2 separate regions of the Homo sapiens genome follow, and region 2 is linked to region 1. A link means that fine-mapping ties the variant in region 1 to the expression of a gene that starts in the linked region. Tissue or cell type: testis. Region 1 holds a variant in brackets; the other region holds the start of a gene. All regions are shown on one strand. Distances are from middle to middle.

Region 1 (8,100 bases):
TGTCAGTACCTAGTGAAGAGCACACAATGGCCTTAAGACTGCACTTGTAGGCCGGGCGCGGTGGCTCACACCTGTAATCCCAGCACTTTGGGAGGTCGAGGTGGGCAGATCACTTGAGGTCAGGAGTTTACCAACCTGACCAATATGGTGAAACCCCATCTCTACTAAAAATACAAAAATTAGCTGGGTGTGGTGGCAGGTGCCTGTAATCCCAACTACTCGGGAGGCTGAGGCACGAGAATCACTTGAACCTAGGAGGTACAGGTTGCAGTGGGCCAAGATTGCACCGCTGCACTCCATCCTGGGTGACAAAGTGAGACTCTGTCTCAAAAAAATAAATAAATAAAATAAAAGCCTGCAGTTGTAGGAGAGACCACTTAACTGGGGGAGGGGGAAAGGGGACTATCCAGGAAGGCTTCCTGGAGGAGGTGGTATTGGAGCTGGAAATGTCAGATAATCCAAGATGAGAAGATGGACTTTCTTCACAGAGGTGGCTGCCAAAACAACCAATTTTATGGCCTTACTGATGAGAATTTCTGGCACTCAAGAGAGGCAACTTTTCCTAAGGCAAATCCTGAAGACATTTACCTATAAAAATGAGTAGACATTAAACATCCACTAGCTCCTTCATGGGCCAGAGGAAGCAGTGCTCAGGCAAGAGGGGATCTGAGGTCTGGTGGTGGTTCTGTAGATGTTTGCAGGGAGCGACTGGCGGGACTGGTAGGCGGGACCATCCACAGTGAGGTTGGGCGCCCAGATCCATCGCCACATTGCAGAGCTTGTGGCTGTCAATTCTGTGGCAGCCAGGAGCACAGGTGACCGGGAGCTTTAGTTTCTGTCCAGTACATTTTGGTGATTCATTATTCCTGGAGTCCTCGTCTTCTCTTCCTCCCTCCCAGACCCTCTCACCTCCTTGTCTCACTTGAACCTCTAATCCTGGGAAGGCTCCACCATAAGCACACTACAGATAATGAAACCAAGGCTCAGAGAAGTTGTGTGGCTTACCCAAGACCACACAGCTGAAGCACTGGAGCCAAGACTCCAACCAGCACTTCTGTCTGCAAAGAGCTCATGGCGTAGTCTCTCATGGAGGGAGCCTCCATCTCCTCTGCTGCCAAATGGAAATCACAGTAGTGTCTCCCGCAGGGGCTGGCGTGAGGTTAAAGGAGGTAGCAGATATGAAAATGACATATAAATTGTAAATTGCCCACAGACATTAGTGTGTGTTGCCTGGTAACCACCCAGCATTTGTGGACTGCATTTACTTGGGATAGCAATAGTTATATTGGCATTTTAATTTAATAGCATTGTTATGTTCCCATCATAAAAATAATATACACTGTGTGTATGCCCACCCTCATCAAATTATATACATTAAGTATGTGCAGCGTTTTATATATTGATTGTACCTCAATACAGCTATTAAAAAATGATGTAACTTCATTATAGAAAATCTAGAAAATATGGACAAGTTGAAAGAGGAGGAAATATTATTTTGTTCCAGCTACCCTAAAGCTACCTCCGTTCACATTTTGGAGAATTCTCTTCCAGCTTTTTTCCCCACTGCCCAGTTTCTTTGCTTATTTCACATGGCTATAATCACTGATGTAGATCATTACAAGCATTTTATACCCAATTTTATATCCCGTTCCTTCACCCTCAGGGGGTTTTAATATGAAATAGCAAGAACCAGCGCCCCATCGGGGACCCTAGCACAGCTGGGCTGGGTGGTTCTGGCTTCTGCCCAGATGTGTCTGGGTGTCCCTGGGCCAGGGCAGGCTGCCCCACGGAGGGACAATGTCAGGACAGCTGGGACCTGACCCTGTTCTGACTCCATGCCCGGTGGGCGTTTCCGTGTTCCCACAGAGCTGCTTTTCTTATCTTGTCTTTTTAAGTTCAGTGACATGTGCATCTGTCTTGATGGATGGATGGATACGTCCAGCCCGTCATCCCACTTCTAACCACCCTCTCTCAATCTTTTCTGTTGCCTCAAAGCTGGCATTGACTCATGGCTCAGAAGGCCAGGGCAGGCCAGGAGCTGTCCTAAAAGGCCCAGACTGGAAAAAGAAAAGGCATTTCTTGGATAGATATCTCTGGCCTGGCTACTGCATACAGGCACCATTTGAAGCCGTGAATTAAGCCTGAGGCTCCTGCCCTCATGAAGTTTACGTTCTGGCCAGGAAGAGAGCCTACAGATGATAAAAGCCTTTACAGAAAGAAAAACATCAGATTAGGTTGGGGCAGGGATGGTCAGGGTGTCCTGTATGAGGGTGCTGGGGTGCAGACAGCAGTTTCAGCAAGGTGATCCAAGCTGTGCTCACGGGAAGGCAGCAGTGGGGCAGAATTGGAAGAATAGGAAGGAGCCATGCTGGTACCCAGGGAAAGCCACTGCAGGCCGAGAGAGCAGGTCTTGGGACAGCAGGTGGCCAGGACTTTTGGGAAAGGGCAAGGAGCCTGGTGTTTGGAGGGGAATAAGCAGGTGGAGAGCAGTAGATGAGGCTGGGGAAGGGGAGGAGGTACCTTTTGCTGAGTTAAAAACACGAGACCCCGTGCATACAACAGTAAATGTTTTCATCATCTTGCATCTGCGATTCTGTGGTCTGGGCTTGGCTGGGCTTGCCCTGCTCTGTGGGTCAGTGGGGCCCTGCTGGAGGCTGGGCTTGGCCGGGGGTTGGGGGGGTTCTTCTGCACCCACTCTTCCTCCTCCCCCTCAGGGGCCAGTGGGCCAGCCTGCGCAGGTCCTGCTCCTGGTACCGCCAGAGGCGTTGATGGCAACCCCCAGTACCTAAGCCCCTTTGCATCTCTGTTTGCGGCTTGTCGAATTGCCGTTCTGCAGGCCAAAGCAAAACACAGGGACAAGCCCAGAATCAAGGTGGGGGGCAGAGAACAGGTCACCTGGCCCACCATGGGAGGGGTGAAGGTTTGGCTCCAGATGCGGCCCACCTGGGCCTCGGCAGGTGGGGGCTGCCTTTAGAACACTCTGTGCTTTTCTCTGAGTACACAATGGGAGCCGCTGGAGGGTTTTGAGCAGGGGAGTGCCAGGATCAGTCCTGGGTGTTACCAGCCTCTCTGCTGCCAGTCTGTTGAGGCTACGTCATAGCCAGGGAGAAAGAGCTGTGGCAGTCATCCAGTGAGAGGTGGGAGAGTGGCTGGCATCCCGATATGCTGTGAAGGCTGAGCAGGCAGGATTGGATGTGGGGTGTGTGTGTGTGTGTGTGTGTGTGTGTGTGTGTGTGTGTGAGAGAGAGAGAGAGAGAGAGAGAGAGAGAGAGAGAGAGAGAGAGAGAGAGAGAACGAGAAACTCCAAGGCTTGGGCCTGAGCAAGTGAACAATAGAGCTGTCATCACCTGAGACTGGGGAAGCTGCAGAGGATGAGGCTGAGGAGGGATCAGAATTCAGTTATGGTGACCAATGAAGGGTTTTGAATAGAGGGACACAGGGATGCACTGGCTCAGGAGTTTGGTCATCACGTTGGCCGCCAGAGGGAGAACAGAGGCTGGGACAGGGAACCCTGTGGAGTGTCCTCTCTGTGGCTACAGGGAGCAACGGTCAGATCTGTGGCTGGTTTGAAAGTAGATCCATTTTGCTAAAGGTGGTATCACAGATTTTGGAGACTACAGAATCCAGGCCAGGAGAGCAAAGAACGACAGAGGTCCCATTCACAGCAGCGGGCCATCCCGGGCTCCTACTAGCTTTTGCTGCTTGGGCCTATGGGGATGGTATTCTAGAACTTTCCATCTTCCAAGACATACTGGAAATGTGGATTTTTATAGGAAATCTTCTACTTTTCAAATATTAAGAATGACTTCAAATTAAAAGTAATAATCATTTTGGGGCTGCAGTAAAACTT[G/T]TTGGTGGAGCAGGCCTCAGGCTTCAGGTTGGTGAGCTGTCCTCCAGTGGGGGTTTCTCTTCCAGGCTAGGGCCTTGTCCTCCCCTGCTCTCCCCCACTCCCAGGGCTGGCCACCCAGAATGTGCAGGCCACTCATCTCTGTGACTCGTAGAACCTGAGAATGTTGGTGATGGAAGGGGTGTTCCCCTAGTTCCCACATGCAAAAAGTGGGGCCTGGAGATGGGGCTGTCTTTTTTCTCCAAACACTTGCCCATCCAGGAAGGCCAGCCCTGGGCATTGAAGACTCCAGGTATGGGGGTGACTCCATAAGGAGAGGTTCCTGAGTGACCTGAAGAAACATGGTTGGGATGAAGTGCAGGGAGGGTCAGGGCAGGCAGGGCTGAGCTTCGCTTCTGCGAGCAGAGATTAGAGAGCGATCCCAGAGGCCTGCCTGGAGGTGGGGCCACAGAGCAGGAGTCTGAAGGAGAGGGGGTAATTCACCTCTGTCCTACTGTGTGGGAAGCCCTGAGTGGGCCCCTAGCAGAGGGTTGCCTTGCGCTTATCTATGGAGATATTGGGAAGGGCTTCCCTGACCCAGGTTGCTGGAGCATGGGGGCCTGGGTGGCAGGGGTAGGTGTGGGAGATTCAAGACAGGAGGATGAGGCCACATCCAGGTGGCTTCAGATACCACCGTGAGTCCCATAGAGTGTCCAGTTACTATAAAGTCTGCCAGCCACTGTGGTCGCCCCAGGCCTGTGCCAAGTCCCGAGATCTCTGCCCTGCAGCCAGTGCAGAGGGAAGAGGAGGGCAGGAGGGGACAGGTTGGTGGCCCCTCGCCGATGCTCCTGACCCCTCAGGCTCCCTGCTGCCTCCTGCCCAGGGCTGTGGGGCCTCGGGGAGCGGGGAGCTCGCCATTGCTGTGGCACTGTTGAGCACCCGGGAGAGGCGGGTTCTGACAGCCACCCCTTCCCGTCTTGCTGTTCCCCTCCCAGCTGACATCATCTCTACCGTTGAGTTCAACCACACGGGAGAGCTGCTGGCCACAGGTGACAAGGGCGGCCGGGTCGTCATCTTCCAGCGGGAACCAGAGGTGCGAAGCCCTGGGTCTGGTGGGAGGTGGGAGGGGTGGGGAGCAGAGTCAGGTGGGAGGCGGGCATGGTGGGAGGGGATAAGGATAAGGGGGATAAGGGGTGATGCGGTGAGAGGTGGGAGGGGACTATACTCCAACCCACAAGAGGGCTTTTAACTGACAGGAGGTGTGGGGTGTCTTGCCTGGATCACATCTCCCAGGGGCATGGATTCCAGGGGTGGGAATGGGATGCTTTGGAATGCCGAGGTGGGAGTGGCGGGCGGTGGTAGGGGGAGTGCACTGGGTGGGCTGGCAAAGCCAGGTTCTGAGCCCCCTGCCCTCAGCCGATGTTTGCGGAGAGCTGCCTGCATCCCATGCTCTGTCCTAGACCCTGGATGAATGGTCAGGATGTGGCACAGGCAGCTGCTGCCCCAGCTTGTGCCTTCAGTGAAACCTTCCTCTGCCTGGGTGACCTGCGTTGTCCTGGCCAGACTGGGGAGCGGGAGGACTCCACTCTTGCCCAGCTGTCACAGCCCTCAGACTGAGCTAGGTGGTTTTTGCTCAGGCCTGGGCCCTTGTCCTCACCCCTGTCCTCACCCCCACCCCCGGGGGCTTGTTGTCCAGCAGAACTCTGGGTAAGACAGCAGTGGCCTGGACAACCTGCCCAGGACCACGTTTCTGGAACACTGAAAGAGCCTCGGGACAAAAGCCCATTTACTGAGAACACTTGCTAAGTATTCTGGAGTTGCTTCTGGTTTACTCTGCACTGCTCACCTCCGAGGGCCAGATCCACACCCCTGTGACAGATGCGGAAACTCAGAGAAGCCACCCAGCTAGTGAACAGCAGACCTGGCTGCCCGACGCCAGGACAGTGGCCAGCAACGTCACACACCACCCGGCCTCAGAGAGGGCGTCTCCCCCCGCAAACACGGACTGTGCCTGGAATTAGATGCAGAAGACATCCAGGAAACCAAGGAGGAGGGAGGAGGGGATGGAGCAGGAGAGGCAGGGGAGGGGAGGGGAGGAGGAGAAGAGAAGGTGGAGAAGGGGAGGTAGGAGGGAGGGGAGGAAGCCGGGGGTGAAGAGAGGACCTGCGGAATCATCTTTCCCCCGATTCACTCCTGAGCATGGCCCACGAACTGAGGATCCTTGAGTCTGACTTTATCTTGGTGGCTCACATAACCCTCCTCACGGTGACCCTGTGGGTGTAGTGCAGTGCGGCTACTCCCCTCATTTTACAGAGGAGGAGCCCAGAGTGCAGAGGGTTAAAATAGTTGACAAGGGGCACATCCTAGCTGCCAATCAGTTCCTCAAACACAGCACTCGGCCAGCACCTGTGGGCTTCACCAGATGCACCTGTGGGGTGTCCCACCAGGCACTGCGAAGCTCAGCCTTCTTTTTGCCAAGCTGCAGAAAGAGATCGGATTGGTTGATGCGATTTTCTTCATTTTGAATTTTTCTCCTTTAGTGTTTTCTTCCTTCTAGTCCCACTGACCTTTGTCATAGCGAGTGCTCATGGGAAGTGAAGTGAATTAGAGGCAAAAATATTGGAGAACTTCTAAGCTTTTCAAAAGCAAGACAGGGATAGAAATATAGATACTTAAAAAAATTACCAGGAAATCTTGAAATTGTTCTGGGTTGAATGTCTCCGTTTCTCCCTGGTTGGGGTTTCGTGTTGTCGTATGAGTTGAACTCTCTCCTGGGAACGTGGTCCCTGGCGCACACAGTGGACTCACCACCTGACTATGCTGGGAGCTCCACGGTCAAGGGTCTTTATTAGAAGGAGCTCTGCTGCCTAAACCAGGCCAAGCACTGCTGAGGAAAGCCGGGGACAGATTCCAATCCAGGTCTGACATTGCCAGACATTCTGTCCCAATGTTAAAGTCTGCTCCCAAATTCATTTATTCCTCAAGTCAGGCCTGAGTTGGACACGTGGAATCCAGGAGCAAGTCAGGGCCCAAGACACGAGGGTGGCCAGAGCCTCAAGCCTTGGCGTCAGGCAGGCCTCGGCAGAGGGGTGCTCGCCGGAGAGTGACCTCACGGCTCTGGGAAGTCACTTCCCCTCTGAGTCTCTGTTTGCTGGTCTGTGAAATGGGGAGAGTCGTGGTGCTCAAGCAGAGGAGGCCTGGAGGGTAGAATGCGATGGTGCGGGGAGGACTTAGTGGGGTGTCCAGCTTGTAGCAGGCGCTGGGGAACATTCGCATTAGCAAGTTAGCCGGCTCGGGTGTGAGTGTTTCATGGGACCGCACGGGAGCGGGGCTTGTCCCTGGCACACTGCAAGTCATGGGCCGGTTAAGCTGCAGAGAGTTTCATTTGACCCTCGAATTGGATCCCTGGCACGGCTCGGCACTTGGTCCCACGGCCGGCCCTGCTGGGTCCCCGGAGGTCCTAGCCGTCGCCCTGCAGGTCACGGTGCTCAGGCCCCTTCTCCGGGTTTCCCTGCAGAGTAAAAATGCGCCCCACAGCCAGGGCGAATACGACGTGTACAGCACTTTCCAGAGCCACGAGCCGGAGTTTGACTATCTCAAGAGCCTGGAGATAGAGGAGAAGATCAACAAGATCAAGTGGCTCCCACAGCAGAACGCCGCCCACTCACTCCTGTCCACCAACGGTGAGGCGCTGCCCGGCCTCGCTTGCATGGGCACAGGCCGTAGATGTTTCTACCAAATGCTGGTTTGTATTTCACTTATATTGTGAGCATTTTTCTATGTCTTCAGAACGCCTAGAAAATAATATCCTTTTTGAGCAGCATATAAATCCCATGAGTGAGTATGCCAGACCCCCTCAGACGCTCCCTGTGTCTGGACACAGGGCTGCCCCCCTTTTTGAGCAGCATGTAAATCCCATGAGTGAGTATGCCAGACCCTCTCAGAAGCTCCCCATGGCCAGACACAGGGCTGCCCCCTGCTGTGAATAGAGCCATCCGAGCCATCTTTGTAGGCCTTTGCTTTGGGGTGAGGGAGTGTGATGGACAAGGATGCAGGTCGCAGACACGGGGGATATTTGACACAAAGTGAACCCCTCCTCCCCACGCCGAATCCAGACCCCTAGACTGGGGCTGTCACCGCGGCCTTGCGGGGCAGTGGGAGGAGCCTTGGTTTAGGACCCCGGCCGGCCTCTTAATCCTCTTGCCTCAGGGAGGAGCATGTACCCCTCAGGCACCGGAGGCTCTCGGCCTGACGCCTGCTTCCCAGGCTCCACT
Region 2 (8,100 bases), 90 kb before region 1:
AGCTCTTTGGTCTCTTCCTATAGGGGCACTAATCTCTCCATGAAGACCCCACCCTCATGGCCTTGTCTAACCCAAATCTCCCAAAGGCCCCACCTGCAAACATCATCACATTGGGGGTTAGGGCTTCAGCCTGTGCACTTGAGGGGACATGGTGCGGTGCACAGCACACTTTCCATGCATGTTCTCTCTGTCAATTACAACAAGTTGGGGGCACAGAAGCACAGGGAGACATAGCCTGGTGGGGCCGTCAGAAGGAGTGGAGCATGTAAACCTGCTGAGAAGTGGCAGCGAAAGGTGGTGCCACTGAAGTAAAGGGAGGCGCATGGTCCACAGGGTGAGACCACGAGAACTCAGCATAGAGAGAGGCCAGCATGCGTCCACTGGTTCCAGGAACAGGAAAGTCATTCTCATGCCGTCTGACACAAGTTTCTTTTCTGGGGTGGGATGGATGGCAAGAAGCCAGGTTGGAGGGCACGGCAGTGAGTGAGGAGATGGCGAGTGTAGCTGTACCCTTTTGGCATTGTGGTTGTGAATGGCAGAAATGCAATGTGCTGGTGGCTGAAGGGACACGGAGTGAGGATAGCTTTTGAATGTGGAAGAGACCCAAGCAGGCTTACGCTGTGAGAAGCATCTGGAGAGATGCTGACAAATTTCACCTTATTGAGCTTTCCTCTACACTCACCTTTATAAAATGGCACCTCCTCCTCCCCGTTCCTTTCTATCTCCATCTCCATCCCCGCCTTCATCTCCATCTCCATCCCCATCTCCATCCCCGTTCATCTCCATCTCCATTCCCGCCTTCTCCTCTGCACCAGTCATGGCCCACACAGTACATGCTCACTTTATGCTGTCCATCTCACCCCACTGGGAGGCCAGCTCCACGAGAGCAGAGCATTTCTCTATTCTGTCTTCCACACTACCCTAGTGCTGGGAACATGCCTACACATAGTAGATGCTCAATAAACATTCCTCATTGAATGAATGAAAGTACAGAGAGGAGTCTGTACAGAGAGGCTGGGGGTGGCAGGATCTGGAGCTCAGGCTCTGTCAGCGGGGGCAGGGCTGTGTGCAGATACAGATGAGGAAGCAGCAGATTGTGTGATTTAGTGGAGGTGGGGGGTGGGCAGGGGGCTGAGGGAGAGTCCTCGGTTGTGCTGGAGGGGGAGGGCTTCCAGGAAATGGAGGAGACAGTGTGGAGGAGCCCAGACACTGCTTGTGGTGGGGGTGGGGCAGGATGGGGTGGTGAGGGGTGAGGAGGGGATGGATGCAAGCCTTGGGGCCCAGTCAGGTTGGAAAGACCACCCACTGCAGGGTCCCCAGCATGGCTCAGAAGCTGATGAAAGGGATGATGTACTGTGTCAGGCCAGAGTGGGGCTGTTTTCATTGTAGTCCAGGACATCCCGGGAGATGAGGCTGATGCCAGCATAGGGTGGGTGTTTTGGCAGGATTGACAGATAGGGAGAGGGGACTTCTCCATGATCAGAGAGGGAGGCTGAGGAACATGCGGGAGGGTGGGCCTCAGCATGATAACAAGAGAGCTCCCAGGAGGCCTGACCCCTGCTGAGCAGGACTGGCCACCCCAACCCAGTGGGGCCACTCCTGCCATCACATCCACTTTACAGATGAGGTTGTGCCTGGGCCCCCTTGTGGTCAGGACTTGAACCCAGCCTGTCTTTCTCCCAGCATAGCCATTTTGCTGGCTCCAGCTAGAGAGGTGAGGGGGTGTGGACAGAGAGTGGGGGGCTGGCCTTAGGATGTGAGGTGGGGGGCATGTGAGCAGACAGGTGAGAGAGAGAGAGGAGAACATGCCAGGTGGGTGGGGGCCAATGTGGGTGTCGGTCACTTTCCTACGGGGTAGAAAGTGACAAAGAACAAGCACATCCTTCCGGCCCTTGCATTTACCTGGTCCTTGAATGGAGTCTGCACAGCTGGGAGATTTTGGCTTGTTCCACAGTGAAAAGGTAGAGGCTGGAACAGGGCAGGGCACTTGCCAAAGCAGGTGCTGGCAGGGCCCCAGGGCCTCTCCCCAGGCCAGCCCTTGCATGACAGCCTGCAGAGTGCTGGTGGGGCTGCTGGGGGGCTTTCATCTCCTCATAGGTCCATTCTGGGGATTTCAAAGGCACGAAAGCTGTAGCTTCAAAAACTCCCTCTCAATCTCCAAGAAATCTGAGACGGCATCACCTTCCCTCGTCTTTCCCACAGCCCCAGTCTCCCTGCCCCCAACGCCTTTGGACTCTCCTACCTCCACTGCAGTTTGGGGAGCTGTCTGGAGTTCCCCCAGAACCATTTGAAACAAGTGGAGGCCATTACAGACCAGCCCCCACCTGGAGCATGGCTCCACTGATGCCTTAGACCCAAGAGCCCCTGCAGCTCTGGTCACCCCACTGCACTTACCCCTCCCAGGCAAGCCACAGAGTCCCTCGCTTTCCAGGAAGGCTCTGTTGAGCTCCTAGGGAGGGCTGATGGTTCCTCACCCACACCTCTGAATCCCCACTGGGGCTTGTGTCCCGTGCAGGGGACTGTGATTCATTAGGCGGTGGGTCACGGTGGAGGAGGTGGCAGCTTGGCAAAACAGGAGGCAAATATTTTTTGAGGGCCCACTATGTGCCAGGCTGATTACCAGAGGGAGGTTCCTGTTTGGCAGAGCCCTGGGTTTGGAGGGGAGGGAGGGAAGGGAGGAGGGGGACGCATTTTCCAGCCTGGTTTTGGAGGTACCTAGCTCTGTATTTCTTTAACTTTCTCACTCGTCAGGAGAGGTGGGCATGAGGAGAGATCTCAGAGCCCTGCCTGGGGGAGGCCCAATCACCCCTCCAGCCATTTCATCCAGTTTTGCCTTGTCGGCTGCTGGACCCCCTCCACCAGCTTCTTCACATGTACTTAATGCTCCCAACGGGCCCCAGAACTTGCGCGACCCACCCTCTTCTACTAATGAAGGGAGACAGTGTCCTTCCCCTCCCCCGAGTCCCCATTCTCCAGGTGCGCCCTCTTCAACTGCGACCCCACTCCTTCCTTCCTAGTCCTTTCTGCCTTCTGCCTGCGAGGCTGCTCTCCTCCTGCCCCCTTCCCAGCACCCCGGCTCTTGGCCTTCTCTCCCATAACTGGAGCACCTGGGCACCCAAGGTACCCTCCCCCCAAGCTCAGCTGATCACCCTCTCCCCGCAAGCTGGCGGTCTCCTTCCTCCCTCCCCCGTGGCGCACCCAGCACCAAGGTGCCCACCGCGAGGGCCCGAGCACGGCGGTGCAGCCTCGGCTTGGGCGCCGGCTCCACCTGCAGGGCCGCGGGGGCGGAGAGCGGGCGGCGCGAGGGAGGGGCCTGCGACAGCGGCGGCGGCGGCGGCCCCAGCCCGCGCAGCCCGGCTCGGCCCCGGCTTGGTCGGCGCAGCGCAGCGCCGCGCGCGTCCCCTCGCCGCCGTCGCCGCAGCCAGGCGCACCGGCACCAGGCCCCGCCGCCGGGCGCACGGACGCAGCGCGCACGGGCCGGCCGGGATGCGCGCCTGGGCCCCGGCCCGCCCGAACCCGCGGCCGCCGCCCGCCCACCGCGCGCTCGCTTGACCGCGGCGCCCGCCCCCGGCCGCCCCCGCCCGTCCCCCTGCCGCGATGCCCTCCCTTCGGGGCCCCGGCGGCCCGCGCCCCTGCTAGGCTGCGGCGGCATGGCCCGCGCGCCCGGCGCGACCTCTGCGGATTGCATCGGTGTGTGGCGGCGGGGCATGCCCAGAGCACCGGGCACGGCCTTCAATGGGCGAGGACACGGACACGCGGAAAATTAACCACAGCTTCCTGCGGGACCACAGCTATGTGACTGAAGGTAACGTACGTGTTGTCTGAGACCCCTCCGGCCGGCCGCGGCGTGGGGATGCCGTCGCACCGAATGCCCTCCGAAGGTTTGGACCGCGCGATGTGTGTCGTGTCCCCCCGCCCCACCCCACCCCACCCCATCCCACCCCACCCCACCCCATCCCATCCCACCCTGCCCGGGGCCCAGGAGGGAGGGAGCCCGAGGGTACCGGCCTCCGCTGCCCAGCGCCGGCACAGGGCAGCGCCCTCCTCCGCGCCGCCCTCCGGGAGGCAGCTTTCCTCTCCCAAGCCAGGTGGCATCCTGATTCGGCCCTGACCATAATTTTTTAAAAGGCCACGGCTGTGGCTAATCTGGTGAAGAAATCTCGGGGAAATTTAATGGTTTAAATCCTGGATTTGCCATTTCAGCCCTGCCCAAAGCCCGCAGAATTTTCTAGGCTGCCCTCTCCCTGGAGAAGAAGAGGGACCCGGGGGGAAAAAAACATAATCCATTGCCAGATCCTCCTGGGAGGCCCGCCTGCCCGGGCCCCTCCCTGTCCTCCAGAGGCAGGGTCCCTGAGTGGGAGGGAGAAGGCGGCTGGTTTGGGGCTGGCCTTTTTATTCCTGGTGAGTTATATTGAGACAGGAGCAGCTGGGCTAACTGTCGGGATTTTCCAAAAAAGTGGGACATGCCATCCCAAACAGGCCCTGTTTAAAATCCCCTAAGTTGGCCCTACAAGCCCAACCCCCACCCCCACCCTACCCCCGAGGCTGGTGGGTCAGCGCCCCTCTCTTACAGGCCTGGAACTTCCGGGGGCCCCCTGGTCTGCCTCGCTAGGGGAACAGTGGGGACAGCTTCCGTGCGCAGGCAGGGCCCGCGGAGTGACCCCGATGGAGGATGGGGACCGGGAGGTCTGGGCTCGGGGCCGCCTGTGCTGGAGCCCTGCCCGAGTGCGGGGACTGTCAGCCGCTAACCCACGGGCTGGCGGCCCGGCCGCAGAAGTGTGCGCGGATTCCCCGGGTGGGTGCCCCAGTGGGAGGGGCCCTGGGCACGGGTCCCGCGGGGCAGGTGCGCGTGGGTGCCTGTGTCAGGGAGACCGAGTGGGCCAGGCGGCGGAGACCGGGCTCCTGCGGCTGGGTCCGCCTCCTCGAAGCCTGGCTCTGCCGGAAATGAGGCCGAGCGGAGCCGGAGCCCCGCGGAGGCCCGGGGAGCGCAGCGCGAGCGCGGGCGCGGGCGGGCTCGGGGCGCCCTGGCCCGGGAGGCAGAGGCTGGGCGTGGGACCTGGGCGGAGGGAGGCTGCGGGGGCCGCGCCCGCTCCCGGCGGGAGAACCGCTGAGTCACGCACGCTTCGCCGCCGGGTGTGTGCGAGAGAGGGGCAGGGCTGCCCGGGCCTCCGGGCCGGTGGGGCTCTGACCCGGCCGCGGCTTTGGGAGGCCCGGGGAGCTGAGAGCGGTCCTTTGTCGCCTGCTTCGGCGAGGCTGAGTCGGGATCAGCGTGGGTCCGGGATGTGGTTTCTGCTCGCAGCCTGCAGCGACAGAGGGTTGGAGGAAGCCGCCGGGTTGCTGGCCCGTGCCTCGGTGGCCTGGCTCGGGCCGAGAGCGGATCTTGGCAGGTTGCCCCGCTGCTCCCAGGCTCGCTGTGGTCTGGCTTCCTGGAGCAAGCCTCTGTTTGCTCATCTCTACGTTGGGGATGACGGTGGGATGGGGCGCAGGGCTCGTTGTGGGACCAGGCGTAAAAAGCGCCATGGTGGACATTTTCAAACATTAATTCCCTCTGCACCCTGCCCGTCCCCTTTTCTTTCATAAATTCACCAGCCCTCAGCAGGGCACAGGAACGGGGACGGCACAGTTCTGGAGGTCAGAGCAGTGCTATCCAATCCTTCATCCAGACACGAGATATTTACCGAGCACCTGCTGCATGCCGGGCACTGTTTTATCCCTGGGGACTGGACAAAGACTCCCTGCCCTTGTGCGGCCTGAATTCTATCAGGGAGCTATATGACCTTGAGGTCTGTCTTCTCACCAGGGCTCAGTCTCCCCATCTGTAAAATGGGAGTGAATCCTGCCTACAGGGTCTGGAGGTTTCTGTGAGGAGCAGGTGCAACGGTGTTGAAGGAGCCGTTCAGAGCTATGCATTGCTAACGTGCAGCCAAAGGATGCTGAGCACCTGCTGTGTGCTGGGACCTCATACGAAGGCTCACCTACGCCTTATCCCCACCTTGAGATGAACAAACCAAGGCCTGGCCTTGTGCCTGGTCCAGACCGAGTGCCAGTGTGTGCAGGGCATAGGGCTCAGGTGCTGCGGATGCAGAGAGCAGGATCGGAACAAGAAACAATAATAATCATTATAATAGGTAGAATTCTGGCCTCCCTAATGAAAAACACACTTTCACACTGTTGCATCCTGACTATATTTCATGCTCAGAGCACAGGGAAGGTCACAGATTTGAATGTCAGAATGTCAGACTTGAATCATGTTAAAGTCCTGCCTCTGACTCCTGACTGCTGTGCAGCCTTGGACAAGTTACTACACCTTCCTGAGCTTCACTTTCCCTTTGTAAAGGGAGAAATAATAACGACCTTTCATACAGGGTTGCTGGGATGATCAGTGATTTTGCTAATATCAAAAGTGCCCAGCACAGTGCTTGGGTTGTTGGAGGCATTGAACACATGGCATTGTTATTATTTATATGCCTTGTAACTGGAAGAGCCTGTGGGCAAACAGTGGATGCTAAAATTCAGTTTGCGGAAGAACCAGGTGCACAAACTCCTGTTCTACCTGTGGTTGAGTCTACACTCCCCCACCACACCCCAGCTGCTCTGATCTACCTCCTGTTCCTTGAGCAGGCCATTTTCTTTCTTGCTTCAGGGCGTTTGCAATGGCTGTTGCCTGGAATACCCACCTCCTGCCTTTCTCACCACTGACTCTTTCTCATCCTTTGGGCCCCATGTCCAATGTCATCTTTGCCCGTGGGAGCCCTGCTTGGGTTCCTGAGTCTCTTGTAAAATCTCAAACATCTTAGGAAGAGTTTAGGTTTTGTTAGTCATTCACATCTTGGTGTGAATTCGTCAGAGCAGGTTGGATTTTTTTTTTTTTTTTTTTTTTTTTTTTTGGTGGCAGGGCTGGGTGGCTTACTCTTGGCTGGGCTCAACTGCATTGAGGGTTATGGTGATGATTAGGTGTACCTGCAGGCCACCTGGGGGCACAGAGAACTTTGCATGAATGGGGTCAGGGTGTGGGGAGAGCAGTGCAGCTGATAGGGCACTGGGCCCTGGGCCCTGGACCCTGGAGGGTGCTAGGAAGTCTCCATCTAGTTAGACATTTCTCAAGAGCTGGATATGGTTCCAGGAAGGACTCTTCCTGGCTCTGTTCTTTCTCTTTTTGCGGCAGGCCTCAGTACTTAGCTTTAGAGTGAGTTGAATAAGCACTTCCAGACTAGACTGAACTTACAAAACCCATCCATCCTTCCTTTGCTTAGCACCATTTGCCAAGCACATCCTGCCCTGGGCAGCAGTGATGACCAAGACACAGGAGCTCAGCCAAGGGGAGGTGGTTCAGGCTGACCAGGTAGATCCTGGCAGTGACTGGGTCTTTCTGGGGAGCAACAGTCACTCTCATGTGCCTGACAGGTAAGGCACTTCCGGAGCACACTTTTCAGCTGAGGCCAGAGGCACAGCTTCCCCTTGTTTGAGCATCTCAGCCATCACACACTGTTGGACACTCATGCTTTTTGCATCTGCATAAAGGATGTACCCATGTTTTCCTAACTCCCATCCCTGGATGTCCTGTGTGATTTCAGAGTAGTCTGTTTATTCCCACAGAGTTGTCCTGATTTTATAGTTGAGGAAGTGAAGGATGCTTGGGAATTGCTAAGGTCATCATGGGGTCCTGAGGCTGTCTGAACGCAGCAGGCAGGCAGGTTTTCCTGCATGGAATTGTCTGCAGGTTTTGAACTGGTTGTGCCCTGGATACCATCTACTTTCTGCCCAGGAAACCACACTGAAGAGGGGATGCTGCTTGTGGGAGACTCAGCATTCAGTGAAATCTGCACCCTTATGGTGGACGTTGCAGCTGATCTCCACAACAGTTAGTCTCTCTTCTTCCAAGGAGAACACATATGGTTCCTAGTAAGAGATCTCAGGCCATAGCTGGATGTGATCAGTGCAAGGATGATCTCATTCCCCTTGCAGTGACTGGTTCCAGAATGGATGTGGGAGTCAGTTCTGGAGGTTGAGTGGAAAGTAGGGAGAACCACAGGTAGTTGGTCCCTCTCTTGTGATGGGAACAGGGAAACCTTGTGGTGGCTGGCAGCCATCTGACACCAT

Alleles and levels. Positions count from the first base shown, and alleles are read on the strand shown. Sizes are in standard deviations (SD) of each study's normalised expression.
As copies of G replace T in region 1, the expression in testis of the gene that starts at base 3,351 in region 2 goes up (small effect, 0.21 SD a copy in GTEx).

The links. PIP is the estimated chance that this variant, and not a neighbour inherited with it, causes the effect.
Region 2: PPP2R2C starts here. The variant in region 1 is fine-mapped to the expression of PPP2R2C in testis (GTEx, PIP above 0.99).

What each region holds. Positions count from the first base shown.
Region 1 is chr4:6,377,816-6,385,915 of GRCh38, reverse strand. PPP2R2C (protein phosphatase 2 regulatory subunit Bgamma) reads left to right here. Exons shown (of 9, transcript NM_020416.4): 2 at 4,822-4,919; 3 at 7,344-7,509. Among named protein-coding and RNA genes, the nearest start is that of PPP2R2C, 91 kb to the left of the region's middle. The variant G/T (reference allele first, on the strand shown) is at 3,851.
Region 2 is chr4:6,467,865-6,475,964 of GRCh38, reverse strand. It overlaps PPP2R2C (protein phosphatase 2 regulatory subunit Bgamma), which reads left to right and starts at 3,351. Exons shown (of 9, transcript NM_020416.4): 1 at 3,351-3,805. The coding sequence starts at 3,736. RefSeq lists an enhancer at 5,042-5,872.